Linked DNA regions of Homo sapiens. The protein of the gene in region 5 interacts with the protein of the main gene of each other region in a biochemical or structural test. Each region holds a gene or a part of one and is shown on either strand. Other genes may lie near its edges.

Region 1 (3,500 bases), on a different chromosome or scaffold from region 5:
CACACACACACACACACACACACACACACACACACACACTGCATTCTGAAGGAAACATATTGGAAAAGAGCACATGGATGTTGAAGGTGACCTGCCAGGAGCTGGGAGAGCTGCAGCCCTTGTTCCTGTCTCGGCACTTTCCTGCTGCTCTCTGATCCTCTATTCCCAGACCTCCTGTGCTCTCCCACTGTTCTGGAGAGAAAGGCCAGCTCCTCTGGGAGCCCCATCAGGCCCTTTGAGGCCCTCTGTGACATGGCCTCTGCCTGTCTCTCTCCCTCCTCCTGCATTCCTGCCATACAGACCTCCTTGCCACTTTCTACAAGTGCCTGTTTTTTCCCCCTCCTCCAGCCTTTGCACATGCTGCTCTTTCTGACCGAAACACTCCTCCCCAGATCGTGGCTGATGGTGCCCATCCGTCTATCAGATTCCGGTTGGAATTCACTTCCTCAGAGAACATTTCCCAGGCTTCCCAGGCCAGGGCAAGTCTCCCCATCTCTGTCACATGTTCTTGCATTACCTGGGGCTCTCCCTGTCTGGCACCTCGCACAGCCTGTAAATTACATATTTACTTGTATGATTCTGTGTTGATGTTTCTCTCCATCACTAGACCGAGAACTCCTTTGAGCGTTAGAACTGTGTGTTTCTCACTGTGTCCCCAGCACACAGCGTCTAGCAATTGTTGTTAAATGAATGAATGAAGTCTCCACCATCTACACTGAGTTCAATTGACTGTACCTCTAAGGAAAGGAGAAACCATGGCCAGACTCCTTACTGCTCCCCAAAGTACCCAGACAACCACTTTCCATGCCCCAGCCTTGCCCTGCAGGGCCAGCCATTGTGCCGGGGGGCAGGATGGAAGTGTGGCAGAAACCATCAGTCAGGGCCCTTTTATGGGAGTCTAGTCAGGAACATATGGGGTTCATACCAGACACTGTTTTGTTTTTGTTTTTGTTTTTTATAGGGAGCCAGTGTAGTGCTGAGAAAAGAGCCAGAACTAGGATTCCTCAGCCTGGGTTCTGATTTGGCCCCTGACTGACTATTGGAGCCTCTTTGTCTTTGGGACTTAGAAACTCCTTGGTCGGTGGCTGTCAGTAGCCTAGGGCAGTCAAATGTGACTGGGCATCAGAATCACCTGAGGGACCTTGTTTAAAAACTATAGATTTGGCCGGGCGCAGTGGTTCACACTTGTAATCCCAGCACTTTGGGAGGCAGAAGCAGGCAGATCACCTGAGGTTGGGAGTTTGAGACTAGCCTGGCCAACATGGCAAAACCCCATCTTTACTAAAAGTACAAAAATTAGCCAGGCATGGTGGCGTGCACCTGTAATCCCAGCTACCCAGGAGGCTGAGGTAGGAGAATCACTGGAACCTGGGAGGCAGAGGCTGCAGTGAGCCGAGATTGCACCACTGAACTCTAGCCTGGCCAACAGAGCAAGATTCTGTCTCAAAAAACAAAAAACAAAAAAACCTAAACCTTATAGATCCCTAGGCCCTAGCCTCAGAGATTCTGACTCCTCAGAGATTGTGGGGAGCAGCCTAGGACTTGATAAGGTTTCTAATAGCATACAGCCAGGTTAGAAATGACTGGTCTGACTACCCAAGCTCTCTGATTCTCAAGTGCTAGGCTCTGATCCTAATTCCTTCTGGCTGATTCCCAAGGGTTCTTTACAATAGTGCCTCTCCTCCCAGAAAGATCCATCCTGGGATGCACAAAACTCGATGCCTGTGACAGAGTTGTGGCCCCTTTACATTCAGACATGAAATGGCAATAACGAGCAGCTTCCTTTTAGTGAATACCTAATGAGGCAGAGGCCTTGTGCTGGGTGCTTTATAAAAATGCACTAATTCCTTTAACCTGCACGGCAGCACTGAATGGCACCATTGGCACTAAAAGACTTGGGTTAACATCAGCACAAAGAAAAAGTGTTAGGAAGTAAGATTGTTTATAGAATTGCTGGCAAGCCTGAAGACCTGGGTTCAGAAATAGACAGCAACCAGGCTAAGAGTCTAGTCACAGGATTCCCTACCTGTATTATCAAGCTATTGTGGTTGGAAAGAATGGCTCTGCTTTTTTTTTTTTTTTTTTTTTTTTTTTTTTTTTTTTTTTAATGTCTTTGGGTTTGGAATTCTGGAGAATTTGTAGCTGATTGGCTGGCGTGGACAGAGCATCTTCGTGAACAGTTCCAGCAGACTCTAACCATTGGGGAGATGTCATTCCCTAAACAGAAGTTGAGATGCTGTGACCAAAAGATAATTAAATGGATCTTAGGCATCCAAAAATTTAATAATGTCTATCACAGCTGGGTGCAGTGGCTCAATCCTATAATCCAAGCACCTTGGGAGGCTGAGGTGGGAGGATTGCTTGAACTCAGGAGTTCAAGGCTGCTGTGAGCCGTCACACCACTGCACTATAGCCTGGGGGACAGAGTGAGACCCTGTCTCAAAAAAAAAGAAAAAAAAAAGTCGGCCAGGCGCGGTGGCTCATGCCTGTAATCCCAGGCCTAGGTAGGCGGATCATTTGAGGTCAGGAGTTCGAGACCACCCTGACCAATATGGTGAAACCCCATCTCTACTAAAAATACAAAAATTAGCTGGGCATGGTGGCAGATGCCTGTAATCTCAGCTACTCCGGGGGGATGAGGCAGGAGAATTGCTTGAACCTGGGAGGCAGAGGTTGCAGTGAGCCGAGATCACGCCACTGCACTCCAGCCTGGGTGACAGAAAGAGACTCCGTCTCAAAAAAATAAAAAAAAATCTGTCACAATTATTATCCCCATCTTTCAGATGAGGAAGTTGAGGAGATCAGGATTGAACTTGCTCAAGGTTACACAGCCTAGCCAGAATTTAAACCCAGGAAAGCCCAAGGCCTGAGCCCAAGCTCTATTAACCTCTTTTTTTTGTGCTTTTTAATGTATTTTTTCTTTCCTGACTCCCAGGGCCCAGAGATGTTTCTACTGCAGAACCCAGTGCCACAAGCTTGCAGAATAAGGCCAGCACTTCTAGCCCTGAGAACAGCCTGCCTTGTGGGCCAGATGGAAGACAGCCAAGCAGGAGGGGAGGGGTGAAGAAATATGCCAAGACCCTGAGGAAAAGAAGGTCTTTCCTACAGACCGACTACACCTCTCAGGTCTCATTTCCCCTGGTGCCATCAGCCTCCCTGGAGAGTGTAGACGACGTGTGCTACTATGACAGGGAGCCCTACCTGGCCCTTGGTGCACCCTCCCCAACTGTGTCCTCTCTGCAGGACATGCAGGGTGAGCCTGGCCTTCTGGAGACCAAGGCCTTGGGGCTGCTGGCTCCTCTGAGGGAGACCAAGAGCACAAACCCAGCCTCCAGGGTCATGGAGATGGAGCCCGAGACCATGGAAACCAAATCAGTCATCGACTCTCGAGTGTCTTCTATTTCTGCCATTCGCTTCCGGATTGACCCCAACAATAAAGAGAATTCTGGTGTTGTCCCTGCTGCCAGCTCCTCAGCAAGCACTCCTCACTGTTCTAACCC
Region 2 (3,500 bases), on a different chromosome or scaffold from region 5:
AAACAGAAAGGGGCAAGGGAGTGGGAGCCTGGCAAAGAAGAAGAGAATGAGCATGTGTGAGAGAAACAGTTTCTGGGAGGCAAGTGTGCAAAAGGCGTGACCAAAAGTGACGGTGCAAAAGGGGCAAGAGGGAAGGCGGGGGGTGGGGGGCTAGGAGTGTCATGGTGAGAGGGGAGAGTTGGGGAGTGGAAGAATCTGGGGTTTTTAAGAATAAGAAGGGAAAGTGCTTCAACGTAAGAAAATGGAGGTAAGAGTGTGTCAGGAGGGGTGCATAAGATAGCAAGTGTGCAAGGGCTGAGCAAAGAGCAGGGCACTCCAGAGAATGAATGATGTGCATGGAGTCTGTGAGGGGGAGGGAAAATGTGTCCCAAGTGTGTCTGCAACAAGGGTCCAGAGCGAGCGGGGAGGAGGAGATGTGAAATGGAGTGTGTAAAGGAGGGCCCTGGTAGGGGAAAAGTGTGTAAGCAGCAAGAAGCAGAGAAGGAGGCATGGAGCGTGAGAAAGGAAATGCAGCGTGTGCGAGGAGAGCAGAGTGTATTTGAGCGGGCCTCGCCAGCCAGAAGCAAAGGCAGAATGTGCAAGACAGCGAGAGGGCAAATTTGTGCAAAATTGCAGCCCGGGGACGGGAGGGGAGAGAGGTGAGCAGGCGTGCAACGGAGCGTGCAAGAGGCTGAGGGGGGCAGCTGTGTGTGCTGGGGAGAGGGGAAGGGGGGAGAGCTGAGGGGCCTGGAGAGAGTGGGAAGGGTTGTTAGAGGGGTGGCAGGTGGTGGAATCCGAGGGCACCCCCTTCCCCTGCGGCCTGGGGGACAGTCCCCATCCAATCGGGCTCAGGGCTGACCCTCTATGGCTCTGTCTATCCCCTCCCCCCAGAATAGGCCCTTCCCTCCTTCTCAATTCCCCTCTGTAATTTCTCCTATCCCCCCTCCGCTCCCCGCTTCACACACACACACACACTCTTGTGTCAGCTGCCCCCCTTCAGTGAGGTGCAAATGTCCGGCCTGGATTGGGCCACCTGGTGACCTCTGGCCTTGGGAGATGAGGGCAGGGCGCAGTTTGAACAGAGTCCCTGGCCCGGGGAGAGAATGACAGTCAGGGGTCAGAGGTCAAGAGGCCAGCAGGCTCAAGAGTTCTGTGGACGGGGCTGGTCCGTCCAGGCCAGCCATCACCTCTCCAGGAAGAATTTGAGAGCCCGGTCGATGTTCATGCGGTGGCCCACCCTGGTCACACCTAGATCGACGTAGTCCTCCTTGGTCAAGGCGGGCAGGTGGGAGCCATCGATCTCGTGGTCCAGGAACTGGGCTCGGTGCTCCGCCAAACCCAGCCACTCCAGCCAATCAGCCACGTCGAACTTGGTCCAGAACCCCAGAGGTTTAGCGCCAAACGGCTTGTCCGGGGGCAGCGAGAGCAGGCGGGTCGGTGAGAGGGAGCGCGAGGCCCCTGACAAGGCTCCCCCGAGCCCCCCGGATATCCCCGGGTGTGGCGGCACAAAGACTGGGGCGAAGGGGTCAGCCGAGCCTCCTGCCCCTCCAGTTGGGGAGCCACGGATGTCAAAGAGGCCTGGGTAGAGGGGTCCGGAAGGCAGGATGGGCAGGGACGAGGGCCTGGGCGCAGGGCTGACCTTGTGCTCCGAGGCGGGCAGCAGCGAGGGGCTGGGGGCCCGGCGGAGCAGAGGGGGCCGCATCTCGAACTCCACGCCCTGGAGGTGGCGGGTGGACGTGGAGGAGGAGGAGGCTGAGGGTGAGGTGGCCCCTGGGGCCGCAGCGGCTGTAGGGGAGACCCCTGTTCCGGTGGGGAGTGGCGGCAGAGGTGGTTTGGGCCAGTTCTGAAACAGGCTGCTGACAGGCTTGGAGAGGAGTGAGGACTGGGAGTCGTCGGAGAGTCTGGAATGTGACAAGGGGGCAGTGGGGGAGGACAGGGATTTAGGGGGCAAGGGCAGGGGTGAGAAAGAGGCAGAGGTCAAGATATAGGGAGAGAGGAGGAGAGACATAAGGGTAGGGGGAGAGACGGAGGAGAGACGGGAAGAAATGGAGGGAGCAAGGGGTAAGACGGCCGGCCGTCGAGGAAAGAAATGAAGGGAGAGAAAGATGAGAGGACAGGGAGAGGGCGACAGTTAAGAGAGATGAAAGAAAAAGAGACATTAAGTGATAATAATAATAATCGTCACCGCTTACTGATGCTCACGTGTGCCAGGCATTGTTCTAAGTGCTTTACATGATTGCATCTCAGTTTAATCCCCACGACAGCCCTGATGCAGGTTACTATTATTATCAGCACAGAGAGGTTAAATAACTTGCCTAAGGACACACAGGAAGTGGCAGAGCCCGGTTATATGGCACCAAAGTCTGAGCTCTTCACCACTATTCTATACTGCCTTTCAGGTTATGGCCAGTCGTAGCAGAGTGAAAGATGGGGAGACAGTGAGAGAGAGACAAAAAGAGGGTGAGCATCCAGGGGAGAGAGATGGAAGGGACAGGGGACACAGAGAGAGAGAGATGAAGAGAGGGAGATGAAAGAGAGAAGAAACAAGGGGAGAAAAAGGTTCCCCTCATCCCTTTCGTTCCCTCCCCTCCAGCACTGTCCCACCTCAGGGCCTTTGAACTGGCTGCTCCCCCTGCCTGGCTCACTCTTGCCCTGGGCAGCTGCTCCCTCTCCACTTTCATTACTCTGCCCACCTTGCCTGTTACATGAGAGACCTTCTCCACCCATCCCATTGTGGTAGCTTTTTTTGTAGGATGGTTGCAATTATTTTGTTTACTGCCCCGCCCCCACTCCTATGTCCCTAGACTATGAGCCCTGTGGAGTTGCACAGTCTTTGCCTGTCCTGTCCAGCAGGGGATCCCATCACCCAGAAGGGCACTCTGCACACATAGGTCATGAGTCAATAATTAATGCAATTGTTGACTGAATTAAGCATCCTTCCTGTTGCTGCTACAAGCAGTGGAAAAAAAAAAAAAGAAAAGAAAAAAAAAATCCTCTTCTCTAACCAGAATACTTAAGAATAGTCAAGGAATTGCATTCAGTTCTTAAAGGCCTAATAAACCCACATTTGTTTGTTTATTTTTACAGCGTAGGAGCATTGATTCAAGTTGCTCTAATAATATACACTTCCTTTTTCTTTTCTTTCTCTCTCTCTCTCTCTTTTTTTTTTTTTTTTTAAGACAGGGTCTCACTTTGTTCCCCAGGCTGCAGTGCCTTGGTGTCATATCAGCTCACTGCAGCCTCAACCTTCCAGGCTCAAGTGATCCACCCACCTCAGCCTCCTGAGTAGCTGGGACTACAGAGGCAGGCCACTGTGCCCAGCCTCCTTTTTCTTTTCTTTCTTTTTTTTTTTTTTTCAACCTGGGAGCATAGATTTAAGTTGCCCCAAATATACACTCCCTGAACCCACATTTGAAGGTCAGACACATTTGGATAGCAGACCTTCAAACAGAATTCAAGTGAACTCTGTAGATGGACAAGGATATTTAAAACCTGCTCCCAACCCTCTGTGTATCTGAAGC
Region 3 (3,500 bases), on a different chromosome or scaffold from region 5:
CTCAATAATCGTGTGCTTCAATACCATAACCTCAACAGCAAAGGTCCTGGTTACATGGGTCCCATGACAATGGACTTCAACTGGGCAGACCAACTGCTCCTTTTCTCATCCTTCACTTTGACGTTGAACTCAGCGGGGCCCTGAAGTCACACTCACTGCCAACAGAAGGTTCCTAAGCCTCAGCTCAGAGACAGTTGCTGTCTCTCTTAGCTCTGACTCCTCCGGCTATAATTAACCTTCTCAGGCTCCTCTCCACCTTCCATTTCTGATGGGTGAGGAAGCAGGAGTCAGTGTGTATCTATTTAGTCAAATGTCATCAATCGGACTACATTATTACAAACTTTGTGCTATTACATCTCCTCTTGGTATTCAAAGAAGAAAAGGTTTGCAAAGCAAATGAGATTACTGAACAGATCATTTAAAACTGTAGACTGTAGAAACTGCACTCTTGGGCCAGGTGCGGTGGCTCACACCTGTAATCCCAGCACTTTGGGAGGCCGAGCCGGGTGGATCACGAGGTCAGGAGATCAAGACCATCCTGGCTAACATGGTGAAACCCCGTCTCTACTAAAAATACAAAAAATTAGCCAGGCGTGGTGGCGGGCACCTGTAGTCCCAGCTACTCGGGAGGCTGAGGCAAGAGAATGGCGTGAACCCGGGAGGCGGAGCTTGCGGTGAACCAAGATCGCACCACTGCACTCCAGCCTGGGTGACAGAGCAAGAATCTGTCTCAAAAAAAAAGAAAAAGAAATTGTACTCTTGATTAATGCATTTTATCTAGAAGTAAGGGCTCCACTTGGAAACACTAGTATTAAACTGCTATATGCATTATCTGCACCCTTGATCAATAAAGTGATCAATAAAATCACTTTTCAAAGAAAATTTTGAAACTCAGACTTTTAATTTTGATCACTAACTCCCTGTAAGTCCAAATGAGTGTTTTCCTTTATAGGCATAACGTGCTTTTTGGAATATATTTCAAGCAAACTTCTTTAAAATAAAGCCTACAGTTTATAGCATAAAATCAGAGATCTGTTTCTATAGAGGGGAAAAAAAATCCCCAGATTGAGTTCAAAGCTTGGAAGTTTTTCTAAAAGACAAGGTTAAAAAGATGGTTAAGCCCCTGCTGAGTCCACAGCATGCTGGGTGTGCAGGAGTGGAAATGTTTTTGAAGCACTTCCCAGGGCCGTGTCTCCCTCCCTCTTTTTCCCCTTTAAACTGCTCTCCTCACTGCCTCCCTGAGTGGTTCTCTAAGCCACTGACTCCACCTGCCCTGGTTGGGGAGGGGGAGGCCTGGCACCGAGAGCTCAGCCCCAGTTTCACCTGGGTACTGACATCTAATTCTCTGGCACATTGCAATGGCCAGTCAGCGCCACCAACTATTGCATGATCTGTTCCACGCAGGAGTTACTAGCCTGGGTCTGTGGGCCACCAGAGTGTCCACAAGCTCCCTACAATTAATGCAGCATTTGTGGATAGAGGGGCATGTTTTGGGGTACAAGGCTTTCATTTGATTCTCAAAGGAAGACCCAAAGAAATTGAACAGCCAGTGTTCTAGACTAAAAATTCCTTAGACTGAGGTTAAGTGTTGTGTAAAATGTACAATCCCCTAGTTATAAATTCCGTTAACCAGAAATGGCCAGCAGGCCCAGCAACTCACTTCTGGCTCCACATCCACCAAACAAACTTTGTTTTTGGCCATAACAGCCTGAATGGCCTCCAGGCTGGTTCCATACAGATTTTCCTTATATTCACCATGTTCCAGGAACCTAAAACACCACCAAAGGGGAAAAGGCCTTTAGTTCCTCAGCTTTCCTAAATTAGCAAAGCAAAGGGGACCTCCCAACATGACTTCTCTCCCGCTTCCCCCATCCTTTCCGGGAGTCCTCCCAGGAGCTCTAGTGGAATACAGATACAAAAACACACAACTGCCTGGAGGGCCAACTGGCCCATCAAGCAACGTACTTGTTGTGATGTAAGTCGGCCTCAAATGCTTGCTTAGACACAAAGTGATATTCCACTCCTTCCTTCTCATGGCTCTTTCGGGGCCTGGTGGTATCTTTTAAAGAAAGAAGGAAAGCTGGGCAAAGAGATGTCACATCACAGCACGCAGGGACAGCAGCAGGCTTAGGCACTCATTTGGGAGTTCACTGCTGCTGTGTCTAAACCAGGCACTTCCACCTCATTGCATGTCCCTGTATCAGGCACTGTGCCTTTCCAGGCAGGCGTATCACTGATTCACACAACAACTCTTTGATGTAGGCAAAAGGAGGCTTTTCCTTTTGCAGCTGAGAAAACTGAGGCACGGAGAGGTTCAGCACTGTGCACAGTGACCCACAACCAGTAGAGAGCACAGCCAGAATCGGTCTCTCTGCCAAATGCCCAGCTTATACCCTTAACCACTCTGCTAACTGACTCCCTGATGCTGTGTTTTTTTTTTGTTTGTTTTGTTTTGTTTTTTGTTTTGAGACGGAGTTTTGCTCGTTCCCCAGGCTACAGCGCAATGGCATGATTTCGGCTCACTGCAACCTCTGCCTTCTCGGTTCAAGCGATTCTCCTGCCTCAGCCTCCCGAGTAGCTGGAATTACAGGCATGTACCACCACACCCGGCTAATTTTGTATTTTTAGTAGAGATGGGGTTTCTCCATGTTGGTCAGGCTGGTCTCGAACTCCCGACCTCAGGTGATCCACCCGCCTCAGCCTCCCAAAGTGCTGGGATTACAGACATGAGCCACCGCGCCCAGCATATGCTGTGGCTTTTAAAGAATCACTTAAGGGACCCCTAGTCCTAACTTTTAATTCTTCATTGTTTTTTATTTTTTGAGAGCAAAGGAGCCACACATACACTTGACCCTGATGTATGCTTTTAATTCTTTAGTCAATTAGTTCTCATCTCCAGAAAAAGGAGACAGGAAGACAGACCGTCCCTATATAGATCGGATGTGTTTCAGCAAGGCTGGCTCTCAAACAAAAATGTTGAAACACATGGTGTTTTCTCATTGATTTCCATAACAGAATTGGGATGCACACTTCTGAGGAAAATCAGGTCTTCTGCAGAACAAGGGCACACACAAAGCCACACACACAGTATTTTCCAAAAGATAAAATGGGATCTTGAGGCACTGTGTCTTCTGGCCCATGGGAACCACCCAGGGTATGCCCTGTGTTCTTTCTGTGGCATCTTAGTCCAACCTCCGGTAGAGGTGCTAGGGTCACTTTTCCAACCATGTCATCCCCCTGCTTAAAAACTTGTATTTATCTATGGGTTACATTCTAAACACCCTAGCTGAGTATCTGAGACCTGCGTGATCTGCCCAACCTCTCAGCTCCATTTTCCAGCACACCATCCACACTAATCTCCCCGGTCCCCAACACTGCTCCGTCCCTTTGCACATGTTGTTTCCTCTGTAAAGAGAACTATTCCTTTCTCTTCTGCCTGGAAAACTCCTATTTACTCTTCAGAACCCAGCATAAAAGTCACTGCCTCTGGGAAGGCTTCC
Region 4 (3,500 bases), on a different chromosome or scaffold from region 5:
TCTAATTGTATTATTCTCCAGTCCACATTTCTTAAGTCCTATTCTTCAAGGATATCTCATGAGGGACTTTGCCAAATACCCTAATATCCAAATATATCACTGGCTGCACTGCTTTAATATATAAATCCCACTTGGACAGAAATTCAATTTTCCTACCTAATGATATTCGCTGGTAAAAGAACCCTCACTGGAAGTTGCTCTTTAATTTGGGTGTTAACAAATTTTGTAAAGTTATTTTAAGGAAAATCTTAATCATACTGTGCTCAAGAAATGGGATATGTGGTCAAATTCTGAATTACCTAAAGGTTTACAAAACACAAAGCCCCGCCAAAACACGTAATTTGTGTTTAAATCTCCTAAGACATTTGTCCAATCCCTGCCTTATGACACAGCAATTAATCACCTTACAATGTAAAGTGCTGTACACAATTAAGGCTTTTAACAAAACCCTTAACAACATATTCTCTCAAATCCAGGAACATAAATATATTCTTAATATACAGATTGCCAAAGCTGAAATTTAGAATGTAAGTTTTTCTAATTGCAGGAAGCTAATGATAGCAAATGGGTAGAAAACCTAAACAGTGTAAGTCTGAGTACTGTAAAGTTTAAAAATTAACACCTGCATTTGGAATGTGTTTTTTTTTTTTGTTATTTACTCTGCTTTTAAAAGTAGAATGGAGATTCAGGGGGTAGGATTAGGAAGTGAATAGAGGCTAGTGTAAGGTGTTAGTGTAATTTAGTTTCTTAATTTATTTTCTATCTATAAATCATATCTTTCCCTTTGCTTTTCTTAATTCAAATGATACCTGAAGTAAACATTCCAGATGCAAAAAAAAAAAAAGATAAGGTTTTCAGTAGCAATAATTAGGGCCAATATTACATTACCTCACTTTCTCCCCAATTTTTACTGATTATTAGTAAATACTCTTAATTTCAAGTATGTACAGGGAACAGAACATAAGACACTGTTTCTTTTACAAGCTGGTTTTTGTTTCCTTTTAAGCCTGCACCCCACTGACCTAATTTTAGATTTTAATTTCAGCATTCCCTGAAATGAAAATCATCACCTTAATTAAGTTCTGACATGATTCAGAAGTTTCAGAATATAAAAACACCTCTTAATTAAAAGCCTGGTGAAACAAAGCATTTTAAAATGAGTATTTCACAAAAACATTGTTATTTTAATATAAAATTTAAGATAAGGTTCAAGACCATGCAATGATACACAACTTTTGGAACAAAACTGATTTTCCACTAGGGTAAAACTACTATTTTAAAACCAGAATAGTACAATGATATATAATATATAATTCTCTCCCATATGTATGCATCTATATCTTAAAATTATTTATGACTATTGGATATGCCTGGCACTATAAAACATATGCCAAAATAGAACTTTTAAAATGACAATGTAAAAAACAAACATAAATAGAAACCCTAAATATTTTTCCTGTACATGGTGAAGCATGCTGTGGCTTCAACATGCATTCCCTGGAATATAATATCACCTGAGAGGGTTTGGCTTTTAAGATTTTATTACAGAAAATTTCCAATATATACAAAAGTACAGAGAACAGTAAAATCAACTCAGTGGTAGACCATAAAACATGGTAACAAATTCCTCCTATCCTTATAAGCATATCTCTTTGCAATGTAACTTTACTAAAGCTGCTGCTAGAGGTATAACTTGGTTTCTTCATCCCTCTCTCAGCAACCAATATAACTAGAAAAAAATAAGTGGAGGCACAGGCAACCTCAACATCATCAACCTTGATTTAACTGACACTTATAGAACATTATACTCAACAATGGCAAAATACATTCTTTTCAAGTGTACATGGTAAGTTCACCAGGATGTAGAAGGTCATGAAACAAATATCAGTAATTTTAAAAAGACAGAACTCTTACAAAGCATGTTTTCTGACCATAGTGGAATTAAATTACAAATTAGTAACTAGGAAAACCCCAAATATCTGGAGAGCAAAACAACACACTTCTAAATAATTCATGAGTTAAAGAAAAATCACAAGAGAAATCCAAAAATATTTCAAATGAAATGATGAAAATGCAACCAATCAGAATTTGTGGGATGCAACTAAAGTAGTGTTTTAGAGGAAATTTATAGTTTTAAATGCTTATATAGGGGGGAAAATCTAAAATTAGTGACCTAAGTCCCCATTTTAAGAAATTAAACCCCAAAGTAGAAGCAAAGAAATAATAAAGAACAGAAACCAATGGAACAGATACTTAAATAATAGAGAAATCAATAAAAGCTGACTCAATAAAATGACCAATAAAACTGGTAAGCCTATAGGCTAAACTGATCAAGAAACAAGAGAGAAGACACATATTACCAAATAAATGGCTATTACCAAAAAGACAAAAAAAAAAAAAAAAAACAAAAAAACAAATATTGACAAGGATGTGGAAGAAGAGGAACTCCTATACACTGTTAGTGGGAAAGTAGATTAGTTACAGCTATTATGAAAAACAGTACAGTGGTTCCTCAAAAATTTAAAAATAGAACTAGCAATGATCCAATAATCCCACTATTGGGTATATAGTCAAAGAAAATGAAATTGGTATGATGAAGATATACTTGCACTTCCTTGATTACTGCAGTACTATTCACAAGAGCCAAGCTATGGAATCAACCTAAGAGTCCATCAATGGATAAATGGATAAAAAATGTGCGGTATACAAACACAGTGGAATACTATTCAGCCACAAAAAACAAAACCCCAGAGAAAAGTCATTTATGACAACATGGATGAACCCAGAGGACATTATGTTAAGTGAAATAAGCCAGGCAGAGAAGGACAAATACTGTATGATCTCACTCATATGTGGAATCTAAAAAACTTGATCTCATAGAAATAGACGTAGAAGAGTGGTTACCAGAGGCTGGGGAGAATAGGGGGAGTGGGGAGATCAGAAGTGGCTATAAAAAGTTACAGTTAGGAGGTATAAGTTCTGATGTTCTATTGCACAATAGGGTAACTATAGTTAATAATGTATTGTATATTCCAAAATAGCTGGAAGAGATTATTTTTAATATTTTCACCACAAAGAAATGTTTGCGGTGATGGCTATGCTAGTTATCCTGATTTGATCACTTGAGCTGGGAAGGTGGAGGTTGCATTGAGCCATGACTGCACCACTACAGTCCAGCCTGGGCAACAGAGCTAGACCCTGCCTCAAAAACAAAAAAAACCCACCACCACCAACAAAACCCAAAAAAGACTGAAAATGAACTCAGTGGTAGACCATAAAACATGGTAACAAATTCCTCCTATTCTTATAAGCATGTCTCTTTGCAATGTAACTTTACTAAAGCTGCTGTTAGAGGTAAAACTTGGTTTCTTCATCCTCTCAGCAACCAATATAACTAGAAAAAAGAAGTGGAGGCACAGGCAACCTCAACATCATCAACCTTGATTTAACTGACACTTATAGAACATTATACTCAACAATGGCAAAATACATTCTTTTAA
Region 5 (3,500 bases):
TTAATGGGTGCAGCACACCAGCATGGCACATGTATACATATGTAACTAACCTGCACATTGTGCACATTACCCTAAAACTTAAAGTATAATAATAATAAAATAAAAATAAAAATAAAAAAATAAGGATCCAGACCTGATTCTATCATTTATGAGTACTATGTCCATAGGAAAGCCACTTCAACTCACTGTACTTTTTCTTACCTGTAAGAGATCAAACCTGATAAAGTATCAGGTTTATTCCAGCTCTAACACTCTGAAATGCCACAAAATGCACTCCCCAATAAATTAAGATTAAAGGAATGCCCAAACCCCAAACATGATCATTGTGATCATTTCTTATGAAACATAAGAATGAGACATAAGAATTTTATATGAGATACTGGCAGAATTTGCTGAGTCAGTCTCAGGCAACATTTAATAAGTAAATATGCAGCTAAGCAGTGGACTATAATGCTTTTACACAGCCAGAAAATAGCAATATTCCTAAAATTAATGAAAGCATACACAAATCCACTCAGGATGCTAGGACACAGGCAGCTGAATGATATGAGCTTATAATCTATTCTTCCCAGACTATTTATCTTATCACAGCAACACCCTGAAGCCACATGCAAAGGATGAACCAGACTCCCCAGTGCTCTATAGAACCATGAGTGAAGCAGCTCTGGTGAGAAAAAGGATGAAGCCTCTGATGATGGACAGAAAAGAAAGACAGAAAAATAGAGCCTCTATTAATGGACACTTCTATAACCATGAAGTAAGTGAGTTACAATTCCATTAATGTAATATAAAATAAGGTTCCCTGTTTCACTAACAATACCACCCAATTCAATTCACAATTTAAAGTCATAATAATAACAGTAGCATGTCTAACATCTTGGGGGCACTCTCTATGTGCTAGATATTAAAGTAAATGTGTTTTAAATAGATTTTTACTGAATTATCTTATTAATCACTAAAACAATCCTATGAAATAGGTACCATTATTTTCTTTACTTGACATATAAGCTAATTGAGGCTTATGGAGATTAAGCAATTTGTCTTAGATTATGCTACTCTTAAGTAGTAACTCTCAACCTGAACCCAGCTTTGTCTGACTCCAGAACACAAGTTTTTAACCACCATGATGGGTGAACTCTATCACTGTGCCAAGTATTAAAAACATGCAGATGAGGCAGCCGATGTCTCAGCCAGCACGGAGCTCAGGGATTGAGCAGGGAAACCAACATACCAACAATAATACTGGAATAATGTAAGTGCTACAAAGTGGTTGGATCAAAGGACATTTGAACGTGAACATTTAAATAAAAGGAAAAAGCCACAGGCCAATTTATTCCAATAAATCAAACTTCTCATGTTGCCATGTTCCAGGTCTTTTACCTATACACATACCGTTTTTATATAAGTGTAGTTGTAGTTTAGATACAATTCACATTCTGCTTTTTCACTGAATATGTGTTAAATTTATATGTGCCTTTCCATAGTGCTTGTAAGACATTACATTTTGCTGAAGGTAGGAAATATATCATCATTTTTTTCCAGAACTCAAATATTTTTCATGTGATGTACTTTAGCAATCATTCATCGCTCCATCTCATAAATACTTAGCACTTACACTGTGCCAGGTATCTTCTGAGGCCTTTAATAAGAAATAGGAACTCATTGCTTTGTAGGCTTTTTCCTGTAAGGATTTCTACTTTATTTCTTCTTCTTCTACCCTTGGGGGGTAACGATAGTGTGTCTTTGGAGCCTGGTGGGGAGAAATCTCTCTTCTCAATTATTTATTCATATCAGAATTTTAGGGTTCCAGAATCATTCTCATAGCTATAAAGTAGCATTGATAGTCCCCCACAGAGAGGTACCTACCAATTGTCCTGTTTCCCTCTTCACAGAAATTGTGTTGTATGTCATTATCTTGTGGGGTAATTTGTGTTGAAGAAGGAAAGCCACATTGCTCCAAGCAAGTGGCTTTCAGATTGGATCACTTGTGCTGGAAATGAAATTGACACTAGGTTGGCAGCACGGAATGGTGGTTAAATGCTTGGGCCCTGGAGCTTGACAGCCTGGTTTTACATTCTTGCTGAGCAAGTTTCATTCTTCTTACTTTACAAGGCTGTTGATGGGATGGAATGAAATGAGGTAAGTTCAGCATAAGAATAGTACCTGGCACAAAAGAACTCGGTCTACATTAGCTTATGTTGTTGCTGTTGATTGAATGAGCTCAAGCTGGGACTATAGATATTTTACACAAATGTCATTCACTGCAATTTAATAACTAGCAGAAAACAATACAAACAAAAAAGAAAAAACAAAGCATTCTATCAACAATTATACAATGACGGACATCTAGGAATTTTAGTGGATATGTTTCTTAAGTTGCTGTGTGTCGTAAGATATGTTTTTATACTATGAAGCCCCTTGTTAATGCCAATATTGTTAGGCTATGAATAACACACATATTAAAGGCTTAGATTGTCATATCTGGAGATTAGTTATGGTGAATATAACTTGACCAGTAGTATATTTCTATCAATGTGATAGTAAATGATAGCAGGTTTCATTATATGTTTTGGCCAACACAACTGATATAAAGACTATAGATTTAAATACTGCTCTGAAAAACAAATTCACTATATGTTGACATTTTAGAAGAGCTCTTAGAGATTAGTCTTACTATCTTATTTTATAAATGAAGTCATTTATCAAATATATGTTAAGTGAGTCAATAAAGATGTTAAATGAGTTGACAAAGTTGGAGTTCGTGGGCATTTAGTGGGCACTAAAATCTAGGTCTCCTGAATGGTAATCCATGTTATTGTCATAGTGCATGAAGCTTCTTCACATAAACAACATCAAACCACGTGTACAACATATCATATTCACCTTAGCGCAGGATGAACATGTGGTTTTTCAGGGCTCCATAGAAATCGTAAATGTCACAGAATAACTTATCAATGCTCTAAAATGTCTACAAATATTGAATTTTCTCATACTTATAAAAGTTTATCCTAGACACTCTCCACACATCTTCTCAGAAAACTTATTTACATATCCACATTTTTACTCACACAAATGCCGTGTGTGTGTGTGTGCGTGTTACATGTGTGGGTGTTATAAATGTTTGTGTCTGTATACTTTGATGTTAATTTACTGATCTCTCAATATAGGACTTATCTTTTTAACAGTCCAATGAGCCACCCCAAAACCCACCCATCTCTACATCTGCTGAACCCACCCCATTTCTACAGAGCCTTGGAATACTTGGAGATTGTGCATATAAATAAAATATGTGGAAATAAATCCTTACTTAATATCTCTATCCGTTTTTAAATATGCATCTGGTGACATTCTTTCTTACTTATTTTGAAATCTTAAACTGCACTAAAGAGGGGTGTAATTGTCCAGTGAAAATGTTATAAGCATCCTCAAATGGTGTTTTACCTAATTTACTCTAGAAACAATATAAAGCTGCTTAAAAGAACACATAATATTCAAAAACA
Region 6 (3,500 bases), on a different chromosome or scaffold from region 5:
TAACGCCTCACTGGCCGTGGGGTTGCCTTCTGACTTCTCAGTGAGACACACCTGGAGCCTAGGATAGGGTCCCTGCTCCCGTCTGGTTCCCCTTTGGCACTCTGCCATAATCAGGACCGGCTTCCTGGGTGTGTGTCCTGAGTGTGTGACCCTGTGTCATAGCACAGGGTCCTGCACTTAGTTTAATGCTCTGCTATCACTGTCCTGGAATTCTTAATAATTTTGAACAAGGGACCCCACATTGCTATTTTCCCCCAGGCCCCTGTCCTGCTCATAATCCCCTTCCCTTCAGATGCATGTCAGCTCATCTGCATCTTCGTGCCTTTGTACACACGGATCCCTTCACCAGCACCTCACTCCCCACTTTCCTCTTGGTTAACTCTAGCCTTGGCTAAGCCCCTTCCTCTACATTAGTGCCATGGCCTGTGCTTCCCAAGGTGAAAGTCCTTGTCATCCTCTATGGTCTTTGTCTCTTTTAGTGACCGTCTCTCTCATCACACCATTATTTTCCTGAAGGCAGGGACTGTATCTGGTGTGGCTGTGCAGCACCAGGCACAAAAGACGCCTGGATTTACTGTGACGGCAGGACTCAGCAGCTTGGCTGTACACAGAGATAGGTGCTCACAGCTGATGCTCCCCAGCAAGAAGCGGTAGTGCAGCCTTTATCTGGAAAGTGACCTGCAGTGTGTGTTGAGCTTGAGAAAAAGTCTGATTTTGAATCTGAATTTGAGGACTTTCTCCTATGAATTGTGGTCATTTAAATGCATGAGGGAAATGCTTATAAGATGCTTCTGTTTTCTTTTGCTCGATGTGTACACGTGACATAAAGTTCAACCAACAACGATTGAGCATTTGTGCTGACTGCTGGCTGTTCCGAAGTGAACAGGAATAGGCCACAGTCTGTATGTTCCAGGAGCTCACATTCCAGGGGAAAGGCCAAGTGAGACCCCCTGAGTGATTGGATACAATGACAAGCTACGCAGGTGAACTTGAGTGAAAGGCTGACCTCTGGTTTGATTTGGGGTGCTTGGCACAGGTGGAAATCCATCTTGTCAAAGCATCTAGTTTTCATGAGCATTCCAAGCATGTGCTTGGGCAGAAGGATGTTCTGGTTTAGAAAGCAGCAGACAACACAGAATTGCTGCAGAGATGATTGCTCCGCACTTTGCGGCCTCAGTGATGGATCTTGTGTCTGTCCTTAAACTCTCCAGAAGGGGCAGGCATCTGCTCTGGTGCTTGTGGGAACACCCGTTTCCATGTCTCCAAGGCCTGCCTGACAAGGTGCTGGCCTCGTAGTGGCAGCTCTGGCTGCTCTCTCCTCTCACCGGCCCTGTCTGCCTCCAGCCCCTGCAGCTCTGCGAGCCCCTGCACTCCATCCTGCTGACCATGTGTGAAGACCAGCCTCACAGGCGGTGCACGTTGCAGTCGGTTCTGGAAGCTTGTCGGGTTCATGAGAAAGAAGTGTCTGTCTACCCAGCCCCTGCTGGTCTCCACATCAGAAGGCTGGTTGGCTTGGTTCTGGGTACCATTTCTGAGGTCAGTAGAGAACCGTGCTTTTCAAGCAGTAGCTGCTGGTCATGTGTGGCTATTAAAATTTGAATTAGTTATATTATCATTAACTAAAATAAAATAAAAAATTAAATTAATCAGTCACATCTGTCACATTTCAAGTGCTCCGTTGCCACTCGTAGCAGGTGATGACCCTATTGAACAGGGTGGATCTAGAACATTCTTGTCATTGCAGTTCTATTGGGCAGTGCTAACAAAGACCTTTAGGCAAGCCCCAGTTTGTCACATGGCTAAGACCCTTGACATCTTTGCAAGTGCGTCCTTACATAAAGCAATAATGTTTAGAACCCATGATTCAGTTTTCTTATCAAAATTCAACTCTAGGTTCTGCACAGAAGCCTTCCCCGACTTCGTTTTTGTGGTCCCTGGGTACCCTCCCCTCTGCTATTTTATACCTGTGGGGTGTCCTTTGTTGTGCTTGTCACACTGTGCTGCTTGCTGCCCTGTGCACTCCACAGAGTGCAGCAAGGGGCCTGGCACATGGGAGGCATTTGGCTTAGGTTGGATTCCCTCCAAGCTAACCCAGAGACAGGGATTCTTGTGCAAGTTATTTACTGGGGAAATGTTCCTGGGAGAGGGGAGTGATGGTAGTACAGCTGACAAGTTGAAGGATATAGTCTCAGCTGGAGACAGGCCCAGCCTGGCCCCCTGGGGAGCTCTGTTGCAGGAATGGCACCATGGAGTTGGTCCCCCATGAGACCTGAGTGGAGCTGGGATAGGATGGGCAAGTGAGGTGCCTATGGCACAAAATGTAAGGAAGTTTGTATTTGGGAGGAACCAGAGACAGGTAAGCTAGAGGCCAGTTGAGTGGCTGCACTTGTCCAGGGACAAGTTGGAGAGCTGAGAGCAGGATTAATGAGGGCCAAAGTGGATGGAGATGTGGGGACAGCAGGGTGGACAGCGGCAACAGTCAATCAGAGAAGGCCTCTGCCATCAGAGAAGGCCTCCTTCTTGGACCCCTTCTCTCTTGGCATAGGAACATGTGGCTCCTATGAATTGAGCCAGAGGATTTGGTGGGGGAAATGGACTATATTTATTTGAAAGATACTGAGGTCTACCATCCACTGGTGTGCCATTGTCCTTGGATAGACAGTGTACTGACCTGCAACATTTCCGTCAGGGATCTGCAAGGTAGATGTCAGTCACGTATTCAACATTCATTGGGCACTGCATTAGGTGTGCTACGGTGGTGCATAAAGCACACAGAGATGTTGGGGGAGACAGACAAGCAGCACACTCATGGAACATGATGCAACAGAGCCAGGTGTGAGTGCAGTGATAAGGGAAGGTGATCAGACGGCAGAGGTAGAGAGGCTTAGAAGTAGAAAGCACACAGCTCTGGGTCTTGTGGGCACAGAGGAGCTTCTGGGGAGGCTGTAGCCATGGAGGGAATGCATGAGCAAAGGCACAGATGTGTGTGAGTGTGCAGGTCTGGAGTGGGGAGTGAAGTGCCTTCAGGGTGCATGCAGGGGGTGGGCACAGAGCACATTCTGGGTGCCAGAGAACACATCTTTAGGTCACCGTATAGGGCAGACAATTCCACATTGATTCAGTCTGACAGCCAGTTTGCATGTATCTATAAAAACGCCCCCTCCTTATCTTGGGATGTGGATGTGTGATGCACTTGACCCCCAGGTGGAGAAAAGAGTTGTGGAGGAAAGCTCCTCTGTGCAGCAGAACAGAAGCTACCTGCTCAGGAAGAGGCTGCGTGGGACAAGCAGCGAGAGCCCAGCGGCACAGGCCCCGGAGTGTCTGCATCCTTGCAGAGGTGGGTACGTGCCCTAAGCAGTCCCTGCGTGGGCTGATGGTACCCATTCTATTTTTTCCTGCCCTGTATGGGCTACACATCCACATTGTGATGGCAGAGAAAGCCTATGTAAGTGCCACTCTTTCAGGAAGCCCCTGAAGAGAAGGGGCTGAGCTTAGGACTC
Region 7 (3,500 bases), on a different chromosome or scaffold from region 5:
CTCTGTCACATCTTCATGTGTCTGTGCCTTTAATGTCTGCCTCTTCAACTGAAGTGCAAGCTCATGAAGGCAGGGGCTTTGCTACAGGCATTTCTGGTGTCTTTAGCTGTGCCTAGCATGTGGAAAGGGCTCAATCTATATTTGTTGAATAATTAATGCATTAATGCATCTCCTGAAGGGAAAGAAGATGCTCAGAGATACACAGTGCTGTGTGACTGGCCCATAGGATGGAAGGGAGATCCAACAGAACATGAGGCTGGAGTAAGTCTGCTTTCTAGAAGATGTGAGCAACTTTAACTCTTCTTACTGTCTTGCCATCATAACTATCCCATTAAGCAATAACAGTTCTCTGCCAGACATTTTCAATTATAGCTGATCCCTGCCCCACAGTGTGGTTATGCAGATCCCAAGAGATAAGCTGTAGCTAGAGAAGAGTGTTATAGGTGCAGTAGCTCATGGCTGTAGTCCCAGTGCTTTGAGAGGCCAAGGCAAGAGGATCACTTGAGGACCAGAGTTTGATATCAGCCTGAACAACATAATGAGATCCTGTCTCTACAAAAAGTTAAAAAAAAAATAGCTGGACATGGTAGCATAAGTCTGTACTCCCAGCTACTTGGGAGGCTGAGGCAGGAGGATCACTTGAGCCCAGAAATTGAAGGTTACAGTGAGCTATGATAATGCCACTGCACTCCAGCCTGGGAGACAGAGCAAGCTCCTGTCTTTATAAAATAATAATAATAATAATAATAATAATAATAATAATCTTTTTTAATTAAAAAAAAAGGAAAAGCGTTTACAGAATCCACTGGCCTTCATCCTTGGAGATGACATGCATGTTTTGGCCAACATAGAATCATTGTTTGAAAGGAACATCATTGTAATTGAAATACCTAACACCTGCTAGAATTTTACAAAAGGAACTAAGAAATTAAAAGAAAGTAGCAACAAAACAAATGCACATGTTCAAGTAAACAAATGGAGGTTCTGATGGATCCCTTCCATTCAAATTCATGTGAGTCAGAAAGATGAGAGAGTTTCTCCATTTCAGTATAGAAAGCAAGTGATAGTAGACTGAGTACAAATTAGGACATCAAATGGTGATCATTCCACCTCAAGAAACGGAGACAAGAACTGGGACAGAGCGCATAACACAGGAAGGACACAGTCGAGGGTGGCCGTCAGTACTGTGCTCGTATTTGGAATGGCTATCATCTGTGAGGTCTTACTACACACCAGAGACCCTGAGCTAAATACTTAAGCACTTGACACAGCTATCGTTTAACTCCCACAACAGCACTAGGAGGTAGGTTCTATTGCTGCTGTCATGTCACTAATGAGGACACTGAGCTTTACAAAGGTAAGGTGACAGGGCTACACTTCAAACTCTGTCTGGCTTTTAACCATCATGCCAATTAATCTGACCACTCAGACACCCACCCAGACCCTTACCCCCAACCACTGTACAACAGGCTCTTTTATGTGACAAATATGTTTTGTTTTTTTTTAGTTTTGAGATGATGTCTCACTCTGTCACCCAGGTTGGAGTGCAGTAACGTGATCCCGGCTCACTGCAGCCTCTGCCTCCTGGTTTCAAGCGATTCTCGTACCCAGCCTACCAAGTAGCTGGGATGACAGGCACTCACCACCATGGTGGGCTAATTTTTGTATTTTTAGTGGAGACGGGCTTTCACCATGTTGGCCAGGCTGGTTTCCAACCCCTGACCTCAAGTGATCCACCCACCTCGGCCTCCCAAAGTGCTAGGATTACAGGCATAAGCCACCGTGCCTGGCCGATAAATACGTATTTTTCAATTCCCTCAAGTCTTGTAAGGCAGCCAGGGTTACAAAGCACGTGCCATTGCTTCTGCACCCCTTTTTCTAATGGTTGCCCTGGAAAACTAAATGAGGAAGGCAGAATGGTAAAGAGGCCACAGAAGTAGCAGATCAACCCAGAGATGGCCACTCAGAAGATTCGAGACCCACCAACCAAAAACTCCTGTGCTACACTATACTTATCTCTTGAAAGGGCTGAAACTTGTTCCTCATAGACATCCAGCTATCTGAAGTTCTCTCACTACTCATCTCCTGGCCTGACCAATTCCCCTGCTCTCGATGCTGCTTCTCCAGTCACTTACAAGCCTGAAACTCCAATTTACAAAACAACAGTATTTAAAAGAAAAAAGGGGGCCAAGCACGGTGGCTCACACCTGCAATGACAGCACTTTGGGAGGCCGAAGTTGGTAGATCACCTGAGGTCAGGAGTTTGAGAAAAGCCTGGCCAACATGGTGAAACCCTGTCTCTACTACAAATACATAAATTAGCCAGGTGTGGTGGCTCATGCCTGTAGTCCCAGCTACTCAGGAGGCTGAGGCACGAGAATCACTTGAACCCAGAAGACGGAGGTTGCAGTGAGCCGAGATCATGCCACTGCACTCCAGCCTGGGCAAGAGTGAGACTCAGTGCCAAAAAATAAAAAATAAAAATAAGAGAGGAAAGGGGCATCCACATCATTTGATGGTAAACAAAAATTCTGGAGCTTTGTAGAATCAACTTAAATACAGAAAATAAGATTTAAGTAAATTCTTTATTAAGAACCTTATGAAATTGACTTATTTTCTGGCAAAGAGACAGCAAATGCTTGATAGTTTTCTCATATGGAAAAGAACAGTTATGTAACCAGCCCACATAGAAAAGCCACGCTGAAATCAACATAATGAGACTGGCACAGTTCTGCTTCTTTCTATAAGTCAAGATTACAGGGGGGATTTCATGCGGAACATACTTTTCATATAGCCTCTGTCCTCTCATAAAGGCCTTCACTTCATTATCCAATGGGAAGGTGCCGTCATCCTTTCTAAAGCGGTAGAAGAGTTTGACATCCTTGAATTCCTTATGCTCATCACACACTGAAACACAATATGCACAGAGAAGCAAATGAGAAAAAAAATCGCTCTTATTTAATTACTCAAGCGAAGTATGATGCTAATTAAGAATTATTTCACTATCACATTCTTCATGCATGCAAATATGTACCATATGAGCTAATACTTGTAAAATAGTTACATAGTACTTGGTACAGAGTAAGTCCTCAGTATTTTTAGCTATTATTATCACCATCACCATCACCATAGTCATCATCATCATCATCATCATCATCATATTTAGGAAGTTCACACAATTCAATTCATCATGCAATCCACAAATTCTTCTAAAGCATATTGGGGCATGCATCAGCCTCAAAGAATGTGAAATCTAGTGAGGTAAGGAGAAATGTCAACTGTAATTGAAATATGGTGTGATAAGGCTACAGAGGTAAGGAGAGAGTGCAATGGGAGCCCAAAGGAAGAGTACCCAGTGCCCCAGGAACACAGTGACACAGCTTTTGAAAAAGAAAGCTTCCCTGAAGAGTTTTCATGTAAGTGGAGACCTGAAGAATGAATCGAAATTGGGCAAAAAATGAGGCGAAAGGGTATTCCAAGAGAACGATGGCATGTGCAAA

Evidence for each region.
Region 1: the proteins of RASSF6 (region 5) and FRMPD1 interact in a test that uses a peptide from one of them, tested with the Homo sapiens proteins (one large-scale study listed by IntAct).
Region 2: the proteins of RASSF6 (region 5) and SHANK1 interact in a test that uses a peptide from one of them, tested with the Homo sapiens proteins (one large-scale study listed by IntAct).
Region 3: the proteins of RASSF6 (region 5) and MPP3 interact in a test that uses a peptide from one of them, tested with the Homo sapiens proteins (one large-scale study listed by IntAct).
Region 4: the proteins of RASSF6 (region 5) and PDZD8 interact in a test that uses a peptide from one of them, tested with the Homo sapiens proteins (one large-scale study listed by IntAct).
Region 6: the proteins of RASSF6 (region 5) and FRMPD2 interact in a test that uses a peptide from one of them, tested with the Homo sapiens proteins (one large-scale study listed by IntAct).
Region 7: the proteins of RASSF6 (region 5) and DEPTOR interact in a test that uses a peptide from one of them, tested with the Homo sapiens proteins (one large-scale study listed by IntAct).

The regions. Positions count from the first base shown.
Region 1 is NC_000009.12:37,741,454-37,744,953, forward strand, and holds part of FRMPD1 (FERM and PDZ domain-containing protein 1), read left to right. Parts: intron 1-2,935; coding exon 2,936-3,500. UniProt on the Homo sapiens protein: Stabilizes membrane-bound GPSM1, and thereby promotes its interaction with GNAI1.
Region 2 is NC_000019.10:50,660,803-50,664,302, forward strand, and holds part of SHANK1 (SH3 and multiple ankyrin repeat domains protein 1), read right to left. Parts: intron 1,881-3,500; coding exon 1,163-1,880; 3' UTR 1-1,162. UniProt on the Homo sapiens protein: Seems to be an adapter protein in the postsynaptic density (PSD) of excitatory synapses that interconnects receptors of the postsynaptic membrane including NMDA-type and metabotropic glutamate receptors via complexes with GKAP/PSD-95 and Homer, respectively, and the actin-based cytoskeleton.
Region 3 is NC_000017.11:43,809,147-43,812,646, forward strand, and holds part of MPP3 (MAGUK p55 subfamily member 3), read right to left. Parts: intron 2,060-3,500; coding exon 1,966-2,059; intron 1,770-1,965; coding exon 1,661-1,769; intron 1-1,660. UniProt on the Homo sapiens protein: Participates in cell spreading through the phosphoinositide-3-kinase (PI3K) pathway by connecting CADM1 to DLG1 and the regulatory subunit of phosphoinositide-3-kinase (PI3K). Stabilizes HTR2C at the plasma membrane and prevents its desensitization.
Region 4 is NC_000010.11:117,291,941-117,295,440, forward strand, and holds part of PDZD8 (PDZ domain-containing protein 8), read right to left. Parts: exon of another isoform or gene 1,524-3,500; intron 1-1,523. UniProt on the Homo sapiens protein: Molecular tethering protein that connects endoplasmic reticulum and mitochondria membranes. PDZD8-dependent endoplasmic reticulum-mitochondria membrane tethering is essential for endoplasmic reticulum-mitochondria Ca(2+) transfer.
Region 5 is NC_000004.12:73,582,437-73,585,936, reverse strand, and holds part of RASSF6 (ras association domain-containing protein 6), read left to right. Parts: intron 1-572; coding exon 573-757; intron 758-1,103; coding exon of another isoform or gene 1,104-1,118; exon of another isoform or gene 1,119-3,331; intron 3,332-3,500.
Region 6 is NC_000010.11:48,240,197-48,243,696, reverse strand, and holds part of FRMPD2 (FERM and PDZ domain-containing protein 2), read left to right. Parts: intron 1-1,344; coding exon 1,345-1,536; intron 1,537-3,204; coding exon 3,205-3,337; intron 3,338-3,500.
Region 7 is NC_000008.11:119,929,222-119,932,721, reverse strand, and holds part of DEPTOR (DEP domain-containing mTOR-interacting protein), read right to left. Parts: intron 2,908-3,500; coding exon 2,784-2,907; intron 1-2,783. UniProt on the Homo sapiens protein: Negative regulator of the mTORC1 and mTORC2 complexes: inhibits the protein kinase activity of MTOR, thereby inactivating both complexes. DEPTOR inhibits mTORC1 and mTORC2 to induce autophagy.